Linked DNA regions of Homo sapiens. The protein of the gene in region 2 interacts with the protein of the main gene of each other region in a pairwise test. Each region holds a gene or a part of one and is shown on either strand. Other genes may lie near its edges.

What was found. Proteins that work in one complex are often made in the same cells at the same time.
Region 1: the proteins of OXER1 (region 2) and NCS1 interact in binary tests that used the Homo sapiens proteins (3 or more experiments, as listed by UniProt).

What each region holds. Positions count from the first base shown.
Region 1 is NC_000009.12:130,223,123-130,231,992, reverse strand, and holds part of NCS1 (neuronal calcium sensor 1), read right to left. Parts: coding exon 8,834-8,870; intron 5,605-8,833; coding exon 5,506-5,604; 3' UTR 5,489-5,505; intron 1-5,488. UniProt on the Homo sapiens protein: Neuronal calcium sensor, regulator of G protein-coupled receptor phosphorylation in a calcium dependent manner. Directly regulates GRK1 (RHOK), but not GRK2 to GRK5. Can substitute for calmodulin. Stimulates PI4KB kinase activity.
Region 2 is NC_000002.12:42,761,030-42,769,010, forward strand, and holds OXER1 (oxoeicosanoid receptor 1), read right to left. Parts: upstream 3,107-7,981; 5' UTR 3,034-3,106; coding exon 1,879-3,033; 3' UTR 1,470-1,878; downstream 1-1,469. Other genes in the region: HAAO (3-hydroxyanthranilate 3,4-dioxygenase), read right to left, coding at 6,408-6,486, 6,566-6,648, 6,831-6,899. UniProt on the Homo sapiens protein: Receptor for eicosanoids and polyunsaturated fatty acids such as 5-oxo-6E,8Z,11Z,14Z-eicosatetraenoic acid (5-OXO-ETE), 5(S)-hydroperoxy-6E,8Z,11Z,14Z-eicosatetraenoic acid (5(S)-HPETE) and arachidonic acid.

The DNA.
Region 1 (8,870 bases), on a different chromosome or scaffold from region 2:
CCTGGGAGACAGAGTGGGACCCTGTCTCAAAAAACAAAAACCACAACAACAACAAAAAACCACAGTGAGGCAACCACTTCACACCCACTAGGATGGCTACCTTTTTTTTTTTTTTCATGGAAAATAACAAGCGTTGGCAAGGATGTGGGAAACTGGAACCTCTGTCCTTTGCTGGTGGGAATGCAAAATGCTGTCACTAGTTTGGAGATCAGTTTGGTGGTTCCTCAAAAAGTTAAACATAGAGTTAACCATATGACCCAGCAACTCCACTCCTAGGTATATACCCAAAGAACCAAAAATCCATACTCAGGCCAGGTGAGGTGGCTCATGTCTGTAATCCCAACCCTTTAGGAAGCCAAGGTACGCGGATCACCTGAGTTCAAGAGTTCGAGACTAGCCTGGCCAACATGGTGAAACCCCATCTCTACTAAAAATACAAAAATTAGCTGGGCGTGGTGGTGTGTGCCTGTAATCCCAGCTACTCAGGAGACTGAGGCAGGAGAATCGCTTGAATCCAGGAGGCAGAGGTTGCAGTGAGCCAAGATCACGTCATTGCACTCCAGCCTGGGCAAAAAGAGTGAGACTCCACCTCAAAAAAATAAATACATAAAAAATAAACAAAATTAAAGTTTTTTTTTTTTGAGATAAAATCTCACTTTATCACCCAGGCTGGAGTGCGGTGGTGCAATCTCAGCTTACTGCAGCCTCACCCTCCCTGGTTCAAGCAATCCTCCTGCCTCAGCACCCCTAAGTAGGTGGGACTACAGGCACCCGCCACCACACCCAGCTAATTTTTGTATTTTTGGTAGAGACAGGGTTTCACCATGTTGCCCAGGCTGGTCTTGAACTCTTTGGCTCAAGTGATCCACACAGCTCGACCTCCCAAAGTGCTGGGATTACAGGCGTCAGCCACTGCACATGGTCTAAATAAATTTAAGAGACCTATCAACCTATTACAATGGGTAGACTTTATTCTGATTCTGATTTCAGTAAACAAAGTTAAAAAAAAAAGAGTAAGATAACAGGAAACTAGAATAGCAACTAGAGATCAGAGGATATTAAGGAATTATTGATTGCTTTTGCTTTATGAATTTTTCAAAGAATCTTTATCTTTTAGAAATACATTTTGAAATGGATTAAGTATGATGATGTCTTGAATTTGCTTCAAAATCACAAGAGTGGGGGTGGGGGGGGAGGGCACAGATGGTACAAGATTGGCAGGGAACTGGGGATTCGGAAGCTGAGTGATGAGTACAAAACATTACACTTTTTTTTTTTTTTAAAGAGACAGAGTCTTACACTGTCACCTAGGCAGGAGTGTAGTGGTACAATCCTAGTTCACTGTAGCCTTTAACTCCTGGGCTCAAGGGATCCTCCTGCCTCAGCTTCCTGAGTAGCTGGGACTACAGGCATGTGCCACCACACCTGGCTAATTTTCATATTTTTTGTAGAGACAGAGTCTCTCTATGTTGCCTAGGCTGGACTCAAACTTCTGGCCTAAAGCAGTCCTCCCACTTCGGCCTCCCAAAGCACTGGGATGATAGGTGTGAGTGACCACAGGCGCCCACTCAGCATTACACTATTCTCTCTGCCACTGTGTATGAATGTTTCCATAACAGATAATTTGTTTTGTTTTGTTTTTCAGACAGAGTCTCACTCTGTCACCCAGGCTGGAGTGCAGTGGAGTGGTTTTGGCTCACTGCAACCTCCGCCTCCCAGGTTCAAGCAATTCTCCTGCCTCGGCCTCCCAAATAGCTGGGATTACAGGTGCCCGCCACCACACCTGGCTGATTTTTGTATTTTTTGTAGAGACGGGGTTTCACCATGTTGCCCAGGCTGGTCTTGAACTCCTAACCTCAAGTGATCCACTTGCCTCAGCCTCCCAAAGTGCTGGGGTTACTGGCATGAGCCAGTGCGCCTGGCCCATAATAGATAACTTTTTAATCCCTTCCCCAAATTCCCAACAACCTGAGTGTCCAACACTGTGGAACTGGTTAAATTATGGCCCAGCCATGTGATGGAGCATTATGCAGCTATGAAAAATGATGGCTCAACATTTAATGATGTGGAAAATAAGCCTCATCTCAGTTTCTGAATAAGTCAATGACTTACATCACTGCAAGTGATCTAGGAATTATGAGCTATCAGGAACCTGAGGAGGCAAATAAATCATTAAAATGATAGAACACAAATTGGATATAATCACTACCGCGTAGGCACAAGGAACAGCCCTATAGAAGAAAGAAGGCCATTTCCCAGCAGAGCTAATAGAAAGGGGGATCATATCATGCGAGGGCTCTTGTCACTTTGACAAGCTTGTCATGGAAATAATATGACATGGTGATTTGCAAAAGAGGACTGTGAAAAATTAGACAACGGATCAGCATTCACCATGGGACATGTCAAGGTACACGTCAAACATTTCTATGATGGAAATATTGGCCAGGCGCGATGGCCCACACCTGTAATCCCAGCACTTTGAGAGGCTGAGGTGGGTGGATCACAAGGTCAGGAGTTCGAGACCAGCCTGTCCAACATGCTGAAACCCCATCTCTACTAAAAGTACAAAAATTAGCCGGGCGTGGTGGCAAGCACCTGTAATCCCAGCTACTTGGGAGGCTGAGGCATGAGAATTGTCTGAACCCAGGAGGCAGAGGTTGCAGTGAGCTAAGATCACGCCACTGCACTCCAGCCTGGGAGACTCCATCTTGGAAAAAAAAAAAAAAAGAAATATTAATAACAGTGATAGTTCCTTTATAAATTGGTTTTAATTATATAATTTCTGTGTGACTCAGTTTACTGAGTGTTAAGTTTTGTAAGTGTTCAATTCTTTTAAAATCACTCTGGACACTAAAATGTTCACTGTGATTATATCTGAGTCATACATAAGGGGTTTTTTTTAAAATAAACTTTTTAATTGAGGTTTTCTCATTAAACATATTTTCAATGTCTCTTCAATGAAAAAGGATTTCTTGTGAAAAATAATAATAATAATAACAGACGCTTCAAAACAGTGTAGGCCTGGCCAGGCATGGTGGCTCACGCCTGCAGTTCCAGCACTTTGGGAGGCTGAGGTGGGTGGATCACCTGAGGTCAGGAGTTCGAGACCAGCCTAGCCAAGATGGTGAAACCCCATCTTTACTAAAAATGGAAAAATTAGCCAGGCGCCATGGTGGCAGGTGCCTATAGTCCCAGCTACTCGGGAAGCTGAGGCAGGAGAATTGTTTGAACCCAGGAGGCAGAGGCTGCAGTGAGCTGAAATCATGTCACTGCACTCCAGCCTAGGTGATGGAGTGAGACCCTGTCTCAAAAAAAAAAAAAGAAAGAAAGAAAGAAAAAAACAGTGTAGACCTCCTAAACAAAATGCCAACAAATCAAATTTTATGATACATAAAAAAATAACACATCACAGCAAAGTGGAGTTTATTCTAAGAATGCAAGGTGACTTAGCATTCAAAAACCAATCTATGGCTGGGTGCAGTGGCTCACACCTGTAATCTCAGCACTTTGGGAGGCCGAGGTAGGAGGATCACTTGAGGTCAAGAGTTCCAGACCAGCCTGGGCAACATAGTGAGACTCTATCTCTACACTACAGAAAAAAAACAAAACAAAACAAACAAACAAAAAAAACACTTTTTTTTTTAAATTAGCCAGATATGGTGGCAAATGTCTGTAGTCCCAGCTACTTGGAAAGCTGAGGGCTGAGGTGGGAGGCTCGTCTGAGTCTGGGAGGTTGAGGCTGCAGTGAGCCATGACCTGGTGGCTGGGTAACAGAGTGAGACCCAGTCGCAGAAAAAAAAAAGAAAGAAAAAGAAAAAGTGATGGATATCACTTCCAAGATTATGCTATAAAAAGACACTGGCTTTCATCCTGGCTCTCTTTCTCTCCTTCTCTCTTGGAAAGCTCTGAGGGAAGCCGGCAGCCATATTGTGAGGCAGCCCTGTGCAGGTGTCTACATGGCAAGGGAACAAGGCTGCCAAACCACATGAGTGAGCTTGGAAGCAGGTCATCACCAGCCAAACCTTCAGATGAGACCACAGCCCTGGCCAATGGCTGACAAGTATCCCAATTTTCCCGGGACTGAGAAGTTTCCTAGAACAGGGAACTTGCACTGCTAAATCCAGGATAGACCTGGGCAAACCCTATTGACAGCTGAACTGCATACTCCTGAGAGTCCTTGAGCCAGAGGCACCCAGCTTAACTGTGCCAAATTCCTAATGTTTGTTCTTAAGCTGCTGTTTGTGGTAATGTAATATGTAGCAATGGATAACTAACCTAGCACATCACAAATGAGCACATTAAAATGGGTGATACACTTATAACAAGGCATTCAACGTCACTGCTTATCAGAGAAATGCAAAGTAAACTTAGAACAAGTTATTACTCCATACTCACAAAAATGGCTAAAATTTGAAAAGACAGAAAATACCCAGTGTTGGCAAGGATGTGGAGCAACTGGAACTCTCATACACTACTAGTGGGACCGCAAAACAGCACAACCACTTTGGAAACTGTTTTCTAGTAACTACCAAAGCTAAATATTACACATATCCTATGTCCCAGCAATTCTACCCTTACATATACACCAACAGCAGGCATCCACTGGTTCACCAGGACGTGGACAAGAACGCTGATCTCTGGACAATACCTTGGACGTTATTCACACCCACTCCCCGCAGACTACATTGAACACTCCACAAAGAAGAGGCAGGAAAAAAGGGGAGAAGGGAGGAGAGGAGAAGGAAAGAAGGGAGACAGCTCTCTACCAGCAACAGGGGCCTCTGCCAGGCGTGCTATCATTCTGTGACAGCTAGGAGCTTAGTTAGGTCTTCAACCGGCTGCTCAGAGAGGGGATAAGAAATTGCTCTCCCAGGTCCCTGGCCCTGGTTGGGAACTAATTTTCAAAGTGTCTTCCACCCAGGACAATTCTTTTCTTTTTTTTTTTTTCTTTTCTTTTTTTTTTTTTTTTTGAGATGGAGTCTCACTCTGTTACCCAGGCTGGAGTGCAGTGGCACGATCTCGGCTCACTGCAATCTCCACCTCCTGGGTTCAAGCGGTTCTCCTGCCTCAGCCTCCCAAGTAGCTGAGACTAGGTGCGCACCACCACGCCCGCCTGATTTTTGTATTTTTAGTAGAGACGGGGTTTCACCATGTTGGTCAGGCTGGTCTTGAACTCCTGACCTGGTGATCCGCCTGCTTCAGCTTCCCAAAGTGCTGGGATTACAGGCGTGAGCCACCGCGCCCAGAAAAATTCTGTTCAAGCAAACTCGCAGGCTGATCTGGGTCTATAAAAATGATCAAAACAGAGGAGCTCTGACCAATTTGAAGGCCCCCCTTCCAGCCTCCTCCTCCCAGCTATGTCCCTGCTAGGCTGACCACAACACCCCCAGAGACCCAGGTAATTACCTGCCAACCGTAGGTGTCCTGCTGCTGGGTTTTCACCCCTGACCCATCCCAGACCCACCCCAGGCCCCGAGTCTGCACTCACCCAGCTCCAGCCTGGGACTATACCAGCCCGTCGTAGAGGGACAGCGCCTGCACAATGGACGGGTCTGCCTTGGAACCCTCCTGGAACTCCTGCAGGGTCAGCTTCCCGTCGGCATTCTGTGAGCAGAGAGAGGCGGCTGAGGGTGCAGGGCCTCCCAGGAGAGGGCTCTAGACAAGCCCAGCCCAGGGCCGGTCCCAAGAGCCCTTCCAAGGTTAGATCAGGAGGGAGGCAACGTGGCTCAGGGCCTACAAGCAGCCAGCACCAGACAGACCTCGGCACTCATGGCAGGGTGGCCTTGGGCCGTGGCCCACCTCTCTGGGCATGTTTCTTCACCTGGGGATGGAGGGTAATTACCTGGCTTCCTCCAGGCACTCGGGTGACAGCTCTGTGCTTGACCAACTGGAAGTGCCCTGTAACTCCACACGTGTCATGGTTAATGCTATTAAACCCCATCAATGTGAGTAACTGACAAGGCTGAGAGCCTCGTGCAGTTCTCTGGGGTCACTCTTGGAAGGGCATTTAAACTGCTCCTGGAGCAGCCCACACTGGACCCTGGGAGACCCGGCAGGGGGCTGGACATGGCTCAGAAAGAGGAATTTTAGTGGGTCTCTCGGGGAGGGGATGTTTGGGCCAGAATCCCTTCCCCGGAGCATCTCTCAAGGAAGCCGGCGGACCACAAGGAAAAGGCCACGGAGAGCACCTACTCGATCTCGGGTATCCAGAGAGGGTAAGTGCCGAAAACAGCGCCGATGAGCACAACCGAGCTGTGCTCAGGGATCGCTCGCTGCGTACACGACATATGCCAAGCTCGGCGCAACCCTCAGTGTATGGAACCCTCACGGCCAAGCCAAGAAGGGGGTGCTGCTCTCATCCCCATTTTACCAGTGAGGAAGCTGAGGCTCCGTCACCTACCCAGGCCCCAGGGCTGGGAAACGGAGAAGTCAGATTCACACCCCAGTCAGTGTGACTACAGGGTCTGTGCTGTTTCCCAAAATGACGGAAGTGCAGACAGGGGGACAGTAAGGAATGTGCGGCCTTGGCCTTAAGCCACGTGGACGCACACCACGAGAAACTTATTATTCCGTGCTCCACACTCTGTCGATAAATCTTTTGATCATTACCAAGACGCCAGCTGGGTCTGAGGCCAGCACGTCTCTACCACTCCTCTAACATGGGCTAATCTCCCTTTTTTAATTAAGAAAGTACAGGCCTCAGGTCAAAGCTTTTAGGGCAAACAGCTGTCTCCAGCCAGAATCTAATAAGCAGCCCTGCGTTACAGGAATTTCTATGATTGACTGATCGATTGATTGATTGAGACAGGGTCTCACTCTGTCACCCAGGCTGGAGTGCAATGGCACCATCACGGCTCACAGCAGACTTGGTTTCTCAGGCTCCAGCCATCCTCCCACTTCAGCCTCCCGAGTAGCTGGGACCACAGGTGCACACCACCACACCCGGCTAATTTTTGTATTTTTTGTAGAGTCGGGGTTTCATCACGTTGCCCAGGCTGGTCTCAAACTCCTGAGCTCAAGTGATCCACTCGCCTTGGCCTCCCAAAGTGCTGGGATGACAGGTGTGAGCCACCGCACCTGACCATTTTATGTTATTTTGCTGAAGGCACGTAACACCTGGATTTCCCTAACGTCATTATTTCAAATTTACATTTAAGTTATTTTAGTTTTAAGTAAGTTTGATTTAAAGAAGGATTCCTTATTTCTTTGGAGTCCCTTTTTTTAGGCTTTTATTTTAGGCTCAAGGATACATGTGCAGGTTTGTTATATAGGTAAATCCTGTGTTGTGGGGGTTTGCTGTACAGACTATTTTGTCACTCAGGTGATAAGCATAGTACCTGATAATAGGTGGGTTTCGATCCTCACCCTCCTCTCACCCTCCACCCTCAAGTAGGCTCCAGTGTCTATGGTTCCTTTTATTTTATTTTTTTTCTTTTGAGACAGTCTCACTCTTATTGCCCAGGCTGGAGTGCAGTGGTGTGATCTCGGCTCACTGCAACCTCTGCCTCCCAGGTTCAAGCAATTCTCCTCCCTCAGCCTCCCGAGTAGCTGGGATTACAGGCATGTGCCATCATGCCTGGATAATTTTTTTTTTTTTTTTTGAGACTGCGTCTCACTCTGTTGCCCAGGCTGGAGTGCAATGGCGCGATCTCCACTCACTGCAACTGCTGCCTCCCGGATTTTTTTTTTTTTTTTTTTTTAGTAGAGAAAGGGATTCACCATGTTGGCCAGGCTGGTCTCGAACTCCTGACCTCAGGTGATTCACCCGCCTCGGCCTCCCAAAATGCTGGGATTACAGGTGTGAGCCACCACACCTGGCTTTGGTTCCCTTTAAAGAAGGGTTTCTTGGCCAGGCACGGTGGCTCACGCCTATAATCCCAGCACTTTGGGAGGCCGAGGCTGGTGGATCACGAAGTCAGGAGATCGAGACCATCCTGGCTAACACGGTGAAATCCCGTCTCTACTAAAAATACAAAAAATTAGCCAGGTATGGTGGCATGCGCCTGTAGTCCCAGCTACTCGGGAGGCTGAGGCAGGAGAGTTGCGTGAACCCAGGCGGCAGAGCTTGCAGTGAGCCGAGATCGCGCCCGCCACTGCACTCCAGCCTGGGTGACAGGGCGAAGATTCTGTCTCAAAAAAAAAGAGAAGGGTTTCTTAACCTTGGGCCTGTGGATAGAAGTCAGCAGGTCTATGAACTTGGGGGAAAAAAAATCAGCCTTTTTTTACTAACCTCTAACTGAAATGTAGCTTTTCCTTTGATGGAAACCTAGGCGACGGTCCCCAACAGGACCTGCAGTACCTGTGATCTGTCGACAGTAGGGATCACAGGTATTTTCATAACACACCCTAGTTGCTGCAGATATTACAGCTCGCAATTTCGGGGGTTGCTGGACCCACCACTACATCTTAGTGAATGCGTTAAGAAAGCAGCTCACAGAACGCTACATCACAGATTCTTTTTTTAAAATACTCTGACAGCTGTTTTCTAAAATAATCAGCTTCCTTTTTGATCTTATGGATTTTATTTTATGCGCTTAAAGCCATTATGCTGAGAAGTCTGTAGGCTTCTCCAGAATGCCAAAGGGGTCCATGGCAAACAAAAAAAAAAGGCTAAGGACTCTGGTTGATTAAAGAAAACATGCTGAGCAAACTGACTTAAGACTCTGGACACTGGATGGGGCTAGCTGCTGAGCAGGGATAGGACACCGTGCCGCCTGCCGTGAGCCATGGAGGAGGTTGGCAGCAAAGCCAGGCCCAGGATCCAGGGACTCCAATTCCTGCCCCCGACACCTTGCCTCCCTGGTCCAGGACCAGCCCCGCCCCCCCACCTCACCTTATCCATCATGGCAAAGATCCGGTCCACCCTCTTC
Region 2 (7,981 bases):
AGCCCCTGGAGCTGGGCAAGGGCCAGGATTACTATTCCTATTCACAGATGGAGAACTAAGTCCAGAGAAGGGTACAGTGGGCTGGGGCCATAGTTCGGACCAGGGAGTCAGTCCTACCTCCATGTGGCGGCAGCCTGAAGCCTGCTTCGCGAGGGAGCACCCAACCCCGTTTAGAGAAGGCCTTGCAAATGATGGAAAGGCGGGGAAGGGTGGTGTGACCCAGACTGTCAGTGAGGAAGCAGTCCTCAGGGTCAAGATGGGGAGCAAGGAGAATCCAGGGCAGGTTAGGAGTGCGGGCCTGAACCCTGTGACCAGCATCTACCCAGGAACTCCTCAAGGGCAGCCTCTGCTCTCTCCCTTGATGGGAAAAGACAGGACTGCAGACATGCCTGCAAACCATGGGAGTATCTGTCCATTTCCCTTCCATCAGGTCATGAAGGAGTGAGGGCAGGTGCTGGGAGAGGTGCGAGGACTTGAGGGAGGAGTTGGTAGGAGAAGGGTCCAGGGAAGAGGAGATTGAGGAAATGGCCCGTGGAGCTGCCCTGAGCCCAGGTGGGCGCATTCAGGGGCAGAGATGGTACCAGAGGAAAGGTGCCTGGTGTTGAGCTGGCGGTAAGTGTTGGCGCCCCAGGTGGGGATCCACCCGAAGGAGCTGCTCAGTCCCCATCCTCCAGGAGTGTGCAGGCCTTTCCTAAAAGACCTGACTCAGGCTGAGGTGGCCCCGCCCAGGGTTGGACTCCCTTCCCTGTGGTGACAGAGGGCGTGGAGAAGCAGGGACCCCCTAGGCGTGGCTCCAGGGAGTAAAAGGGAGCAGTAGGAGTTGAGGGGGCAAGAGGGGCCCATGGGGAGCCGAGAGACAGAAGAGCAACCCTGGGGGGGGCCCAGGTGGCACCCCAGTACCTTGGTAGGTTTCTGAGTGCAGCAGGTAGATTTTCAGAACAGGGAAGTGGGCTGGAGATACACGGTGGAGGCGGGGTCTGGTACTCACCCGCTCATCCTTCCCGGGCCCACCTCCCTCTGCCTGATACTTTTTCTCTCGCTCCCTCCCCAGCATCCACATGGACCCTTGATGCCACCCTCCTGGTCTGTGTGTGACACTTCTGGGCTTTCACTTCTATTCCTGACGACTTTAGTAGCTGGGGTGCGTCCTGTCCATGATATGAGAGGGCTGGGCTAAGTGGATTGAGGGAACTGGGGAGGGATGTTAGGTCCCCAGCATCAAACTCTGTACCCGAGGGCCTGGAGCCCTGGTGGCCTGCCTGAGGCCTCACCCAAGAAAGCAGTTCTGCCTTTCAGGACATGCCGGGGCTTCCCAGAAGTTCTGGGAAGGACAGTGCCCCCTGGGATGGGGCTGTGGGATGGCTTCCCCACTCTCTCCCAAGTTTCCCTTCACCTTGGGGCGCTCACTTTGACGCCTACTGACAGTCCCAGGTTAGAATTAAAGACAGATATTTGGTCTTGCAAATAAATATATTTAAAAGGGAAGTTTATTAATATTGGAAGGGACAAACTGGAGAGCACAGAACATGCAGCTGTCCAATTTCTAAGGTGACTCTGCTGTGACAGTGATTGGCGTCTGTCCCCTGCAGCTGCGCAGGCCCCTGTCTGAGCTGGTGTGCCAACGGCACCTTGCCTGTCTCCTCCACCCGGCATCCTGCTCTCCCCTGCATTCTGGGAATGCCATCCTGGACACACTGAGAGGCCTAGGTGGGTTTCTCTCCCTGCCACCCACCTGAGTCCTGCCAGTGCTTTGGCCTGGCCCCTGGTCTGCCGCCATCCCTTGTCCAGTTGGTTGAGGCACCGTGTGCTGGCCTTGTCCCTCCAGGCCAGAGCGCGGCAGCCCTTACCCCCACAGCGCTGCAGCCCTGCAGCTGGCCCTCAGCCCTGGGAGGAGCCTTCCTTTTCCAGAGAGACCTCGCCCTGCACTTTCAGCTTCCCTATGGCCTCCGCCTTCCTAGAGGCCTCCCGGTAGCGCCACTGCCTGGAGGGTTGGTAGGAGCTCTCGTCGCTCACTGGGCCCTGCCGGCCCCGCGTGAGGCCCAGCAAGGCCCGGCTCTGGTGGAGGAAGTTGGGGCTAGAGAAGCAGTAGAGCACGGGGTCCAGGACACTGTTGAGGTAGGTGAAGGCCAGGGAGCCATGGAAGAGCTGTGTGCAGAGGTCCAGGGATCGGCAGGCGGACAGCCAGAAAGCCACCATGGAAGCCATGCCAAAGATGATGCTGGGCAAGAAGCAGATGGTGTAGACGGCCACCACCATGGCCAGCACACGCATGGCCCTCTGCGGGCCTGCCTGCCCGCCCAGACCACGGTTCCGGATGGTGAGCCCAATGCTCACAATAGCAAAGAGGATGAGCGCCAGTGGCAGGAAGAACTCCAGCAGGTACAGTGCCTGGTGCCAGCGGAGCGAGGCCGAGGGCTTCGTGCCCACCCTGTAGCTGAGGCAGGAGGGGCCGGAGAAGGTGCTCAGGAGCAGGTGCCCGTTGAGGAGCAGGATGCCCACCCAGAGTCCCCCGGCCACCCGGGCAGCTGCCCCCACGGAAGCACGGCTCAGCACGTGGTGGGGCTGCACCACCTTCAGGTAGCGGTTGAGTGCGATGGCTGTGAGGAAGACAACGCTGGCCGTGCGGTTGGTGGACAGCATGAAGAGGTTGACTTTGCAGGCAGCAGCCCCAAAGCGCCAGGTCTCATGGAGGAGGTAGTAGTCCACGCGGAGGGGCAGGTTGCTGATCAGGAGGAAGTCAGCGGCCACCAGGCTGACCAGGAACACCGTGTTGGAGGTCCAGGGCCGCGTGTGGATGCAGAAGATGAAGAGGGCCAAACTGTTCCCCACCAGGCCCAGGACAAACTCCAGGGCCAGGATTGGTGCCAGGAAGGCAGACACCAGCGAGGAAGAGGTGGGGTGGCAGGGCCCTCCAGAGGACCCCCCCACAGTGGTAAAGGCAGAGGGAGCAGAGGAGGGTGAGGGAGAGAAGGAGGGAGGGAGAACAGAGGAGGAGAGAGAGGGAGATGGAGAGCTCAGGTTATGAAGTTCCATGGGCTGCTTGGGCCATGGGCCTGAGAGAAGGTTCTGGAGTCTTCTACCCCTGCAGGAGTGCTCAGGGCAAAGTGGGATGATTGGCACTATCAGCTGGCCACCACGGTGACACAACATCCTGGGGTTTTCATCAGCATTCTCGCAGCCACTGAGAAACACCCTGTGTTCCTGTTTGCAGGCCAAGGGGAACCCTGCAGCCCTCCCTCCTTCCCTCCGCCTCGGGGTACTGAGTGATCCCACCACATGAGGTCTCTGAGCCCAGCCTGGGGGTTGTGCTGCTGGTAGAGGAGGAAGCAGGGCTCAGCAGGGGCAAGATGGAAGCCCAGAGAAACCCTGAAGTGGGAGGATAGTCCAGCCGGGTGAGGTGGGGGCTCTCAGGATCATGCAGCCCTCCCTGGACACCCCCTCCTCCACTACATATAGAGGCTGGTGGCTGCCTCCCTGCCCCCACCAGCTCTGGCTTCAGGGACTGTGGAGCCAAAAGGACATTGTCCTGAGAGGTAGGCAGGGAGTCAGTGAAGACCTCCACCGCCCTGCTGGTGGCCTGGAGGGAACCAGTCCTATTTGTGCTCCGCCAGCCTGCTGTGTGTCTGAAAGCCCACTGTAGTTCAGCTTTCAGTTGCTCCCAGGTTCCTGATGGTTCCGAAGTCTGTGATGGTCCCAAGTCCGGGTACACGGTGAAGTAGGCCCCATGGACGGGGACGCCCCTGCCAAATTTCTACTGCCATGGCACGGGGAGCTGGGGGCTTCTCCCGCAAATAGAACAATCCTGATTTTTCCCTGTCTGTGTCTCCCCATGGCTCCTTGTCCACTCCACTCCTTGCCCCCATTAGCATTCACTGCGGAATAGGGAGTGGGAGGCTGGGGCTAGCTCCAGACAAGGTACAAGTCCAGCTGTCCCATGGTGAGGTATTCTCATGAGCCCATGGGCTGGTCCTGTGGGTGGAGATGAGGGCTTCAGGCTCCTGATAACCCGGGACAGCAGGGCCAAGGGAGGTGCTGGTTCCAGGCTCCAGGGCCTGACCCCATCACTGCCAACTGGCTGGGGTCAGCAGTCTGCCATGTGTGGCCTGGCCTCTGTGTCCCAGGCACAGTGGCCCCTGGCCTCTCTTGGCTGCCCTGGGCTCCCATTTGGTCAAGGCTGAGGGCAAACATCCCTGGGAGAAGCAGGGTGGTGAGGCCCAGCCTAAGCTCCATATGCAGACAGGCCTGGGTTGGAAACAGAGCTGCCCTATTTCCAAACCTCTCTGAGCCTGATCTGTAAAATCAGGCACTACCACCTTCTTGGAGAGTTGTGAGGATAAAATGAGATAATTTATGTAAAAACTTATAGGCCAGGCACAGTGGCTTAAGCCTGTAATCCCAGCACTTTGGGAGGCCGAGGCGGGCAGATCACGAGGTCAGGAGATCGAGACCATCCTGGCTAACACGGTGAAACCCCGTCTCTACTAAAAATACAAAAAAAGTAGCCGGGCGTGGTGGCAGGTGCCTGTAGTCCCAGCTACTCGGGAGGCTGAGGCAGGAGAATGGCGTGAACCTGGGAGGCGGAGCTTGCAGTGAGCTGAGATCGCGCCACTGCACTCCAGCCTGGGCAACAGAGTGAGACTCCGTCTCAAAAAAAAAAAAAAAAAAAAAAACAAACTTCTAGGGGATTCCTTGGGACAGAGCGAGTGTTCACAAAAACAGATCTAATTTTCATGACTTTCTCTCTGGATTAAGCTTGCCCTGCATATGAGAGTAAACTCTTCTCTTCACGGCCATCGGTATTCTGACCTGGGTCCTCCCTGGAACATTCTATGTCTTCTTCTCAGGTCCTGCACGGAGCAGTGCATTGCTACAGGCCAGGAACGAGCCGCGTGGAGCCTCTGCCTGTGCCTATCCTGGACCATTTGTGTTTGAAGGAGCCTGATGGTGTTTTTTCTTTGCTTGCAGGAGAGGAAAGCCCTTAGGGGTGACGAGGAGGTTGAAGGTCCCGATGTCTCTTAGGGCCAGTAGCCTTTTCAGCAAAGGCAGGTCTTTCTCTGCTCCCAGTGGAGTGTAGGAAGGCAGTGAGCCACTGGGCTGGGGATGAGGGAGACAGGGGTCAAGTGTTCTTTTCTAGAGGAAGCTTTGAGTCCACGCAGGGACCTGTTCTGTCCAGATCTGTCACTCTCATGTGCATGCCCTCATTGACTTCTCACGGAAGTCCCAGGAAACTGAGCTGCGCCCGCTGCAGGTTCCACATTCTTGTCTCTTCCCACTGGTGCCTCTGAGGCCTCCAGCATCCCTAGACACCCATAGCAGGCTCAGGGGTCCCTCTGGAGTCTTTGAACAGGGCACCTGTGCATGACAGGGGAGGGAAGGGGACACAAGGCCAGACACCCCCACCAACACTGCTGAGCTCCTGGTACAACTTCATGCCCCTCTCCAGGCTGATCATAGTCTTTAGGTATTAACAGTGGTTAGCTCTGGGTGGGGGATTTTGTGTATTTCTGGGTTTTCTATAGTTAGCACAGATGACTTCTGTTATTGGAAAAAAACTCAACAGATGCTAGTGTTTTAAAGTTATGTAAAAAGACAGACTGGGCAACATGGTGAAATCCCCATCTCTACAAAAAAGAAAAAAAAAATTAACAGGGTGTGGTGGTGCATGCCTGTAGTCCCAGCTACTCAGAAGGCTGAGGTGGGAGAATCACTTGAGCCAGGAGGGTCAAGGCTGCAGTGAGCTCTGATCACACCACTGCACTCCAGCCTTGGTGACAGTGAGATCCTGTTTCAAAAAAAAAAAAAAAGTAAAAAGAATAAATGAGAACAGAGAAGGAAGTGGAGAGATGACATTAGCCGTGCTCCCAGGACCAGGCATGGAGCATGCGTGGATCAAGTCACACACACAGTGAAGAATGCCCATCCACAAACAGGGATGCCCAATAACAGACCCTCCAACACGTCCATGGTCACCTGGTGCCCTGATGCCCCAGACACACCACATGGTCCTGGGGGGCACATGGGAAGGCCAGTGATGACTGCCTGCGGCAGACCCCCAGGTGTGCGTTCCTCAGGAAGCCTTTATTGAGGGCCTTCTTGGTGTGGAAGTGCTGCACTGAGTCTGCAGGGACAGAGGAATGGGCAGGAGCGGGGCCGGGGGTAGACCACCTGGCAAGACTGGCAAGGCAGTGGGCTGAGTCTGCCAGAGAAGATGGGGAGCTGCTGCCCGCCCAGGGGCATGGCATCTGGGCTGAGAAGGGCAGGAGGGTGGGTGACAACAATGTGCAGGTCTGTGGGGGACACAGCGGCAGTACACAGAGAGGTAGTGGGGGCTGGGAGAGTTGTTTGGCAGGGATGGCACTCGAGGGTGCTTGGCACACCTGTGGCTGCTTCAGGCCATGGCAAGAGGGTCACCCCAGGGGCTTCTTGCAGGCAGGGTCCTGGGTCACAGACAGGGCCACAGAGCCTTGTGTTCGCTCCCAGGCATACCTGTGGACACACAGATGAGCAGGGATCACACAGAGTTGGACCCTGAGGATCCCAGGGAAAGCCCTCCCTGCGTACTCACGAGGTCCCAGCTAGCACCAGGAGGCTGTCATCAGGGGCCAGGCTCAGGCGCCGTCCCCCCATTGTCACCACCGAGGAGCCCTCCTGGAGAAGAGGAGCAGGAGAATCAAATGGAGACTGTTGGGCCTCATCACCTGGGTGAATGTCTGAGTCTGCCTGGGCCCCAAGGCCCCAAGAGTGGGCCCCGTGTGGGAGCCCAGGGCCGAGGAGCGGGCTGATGCCCTCTGGCAGGGGGTTCTGCAACCCTGTCCCTGGGCCCCACTTGCCAGCTGCCACAGCCACACGTCCACATTCTGTCTCAGGCCTTCGCTGCTGCCTTGCCCATAGGCGATCACCTGGTGGGAGGTGAAACAGAAACTTCTGGTGCTTCTTGCCCCACATGGGAGATGGTCTTGAACCTGGCCCCCAGACACCAGGCCTGCTTGGAGCAGGGTTGGGGCCCATGAAACAGCCCCATCACCATGTGCTGAGCAGAGACCAGGACTTGGAGAGGAGGGCTGCCTGGGCTGCAGGCCTCCCTGTGCCCGCCGCTGCAACAGGTATTTGGGATCACACATGCCTGCCTTTCACGTGCAGTGCACCCGTGGTCCCTCTGATGTGTGCTCATGCGAAGGCATGCTCACCAGGGCACATGAGGGACGCATTTCCATCAGCTTCCCAGAGGGTGCCACCTCCCTTTCTCTGAGAGAGGTTATGAGTCTGGCCTCAGGAGGAGGAGGGGACAAGGAAGGTGAGGCTGAGGGCTCTCTGACATGCACCAGCCTGGAAGCACACAGCTACTGTGCAGGGCCGTGCTGCTGATGCCCTGGAGAGGGTGCATATTCATTAATGTAAACTGAAGCAGGTAAGAGCAGGGTATTGCAGAGGTGGGGTGCAGGGCTGAGTGGTACTGCTGTGACATGTGCGCATGTTCTCGCAGCCCTGTGTAAGCTCAGGACGTCCCTGGTACCCAAGAGCAGCAGGCCAGGCCTCTACGGGAAGCCTGTGGCCATGAGCATCCCTGCACAGATTGACTCATTCAAAGCCCATGGGATGTGCCAGTGGCAAGCCGTAAAGCACAAGTGAACACAGGTCTCCCTGCACCACTCTTGCCCTCCCAGCCTTGTTCCCACACGTGGTACAGAAACACCACTCTGGCCTGTCACTCCCCTGCTTCAATACTTTGGTGGAGGGCTGTTGTCTTTAGGACAAGTCCTCCCACCTTGCCTAGCCCAGCAGACCTACCAGGACCTGGGCCCTGCCTGCTGCTCCACAGTCCACCAGTCACACTTGTACCCCCACCCCCAAGCCCCGCCTCTGGCCAACTTCGGCTGCTCCCAGTGCCAGGCTGTTTCAAGCCTGAAACAGCTCATGCTCATGCTTCTCCCTCACCTAGAATGCTCTCTCCACCTCCCTTTCTTTCTTTTACAAACTCCTA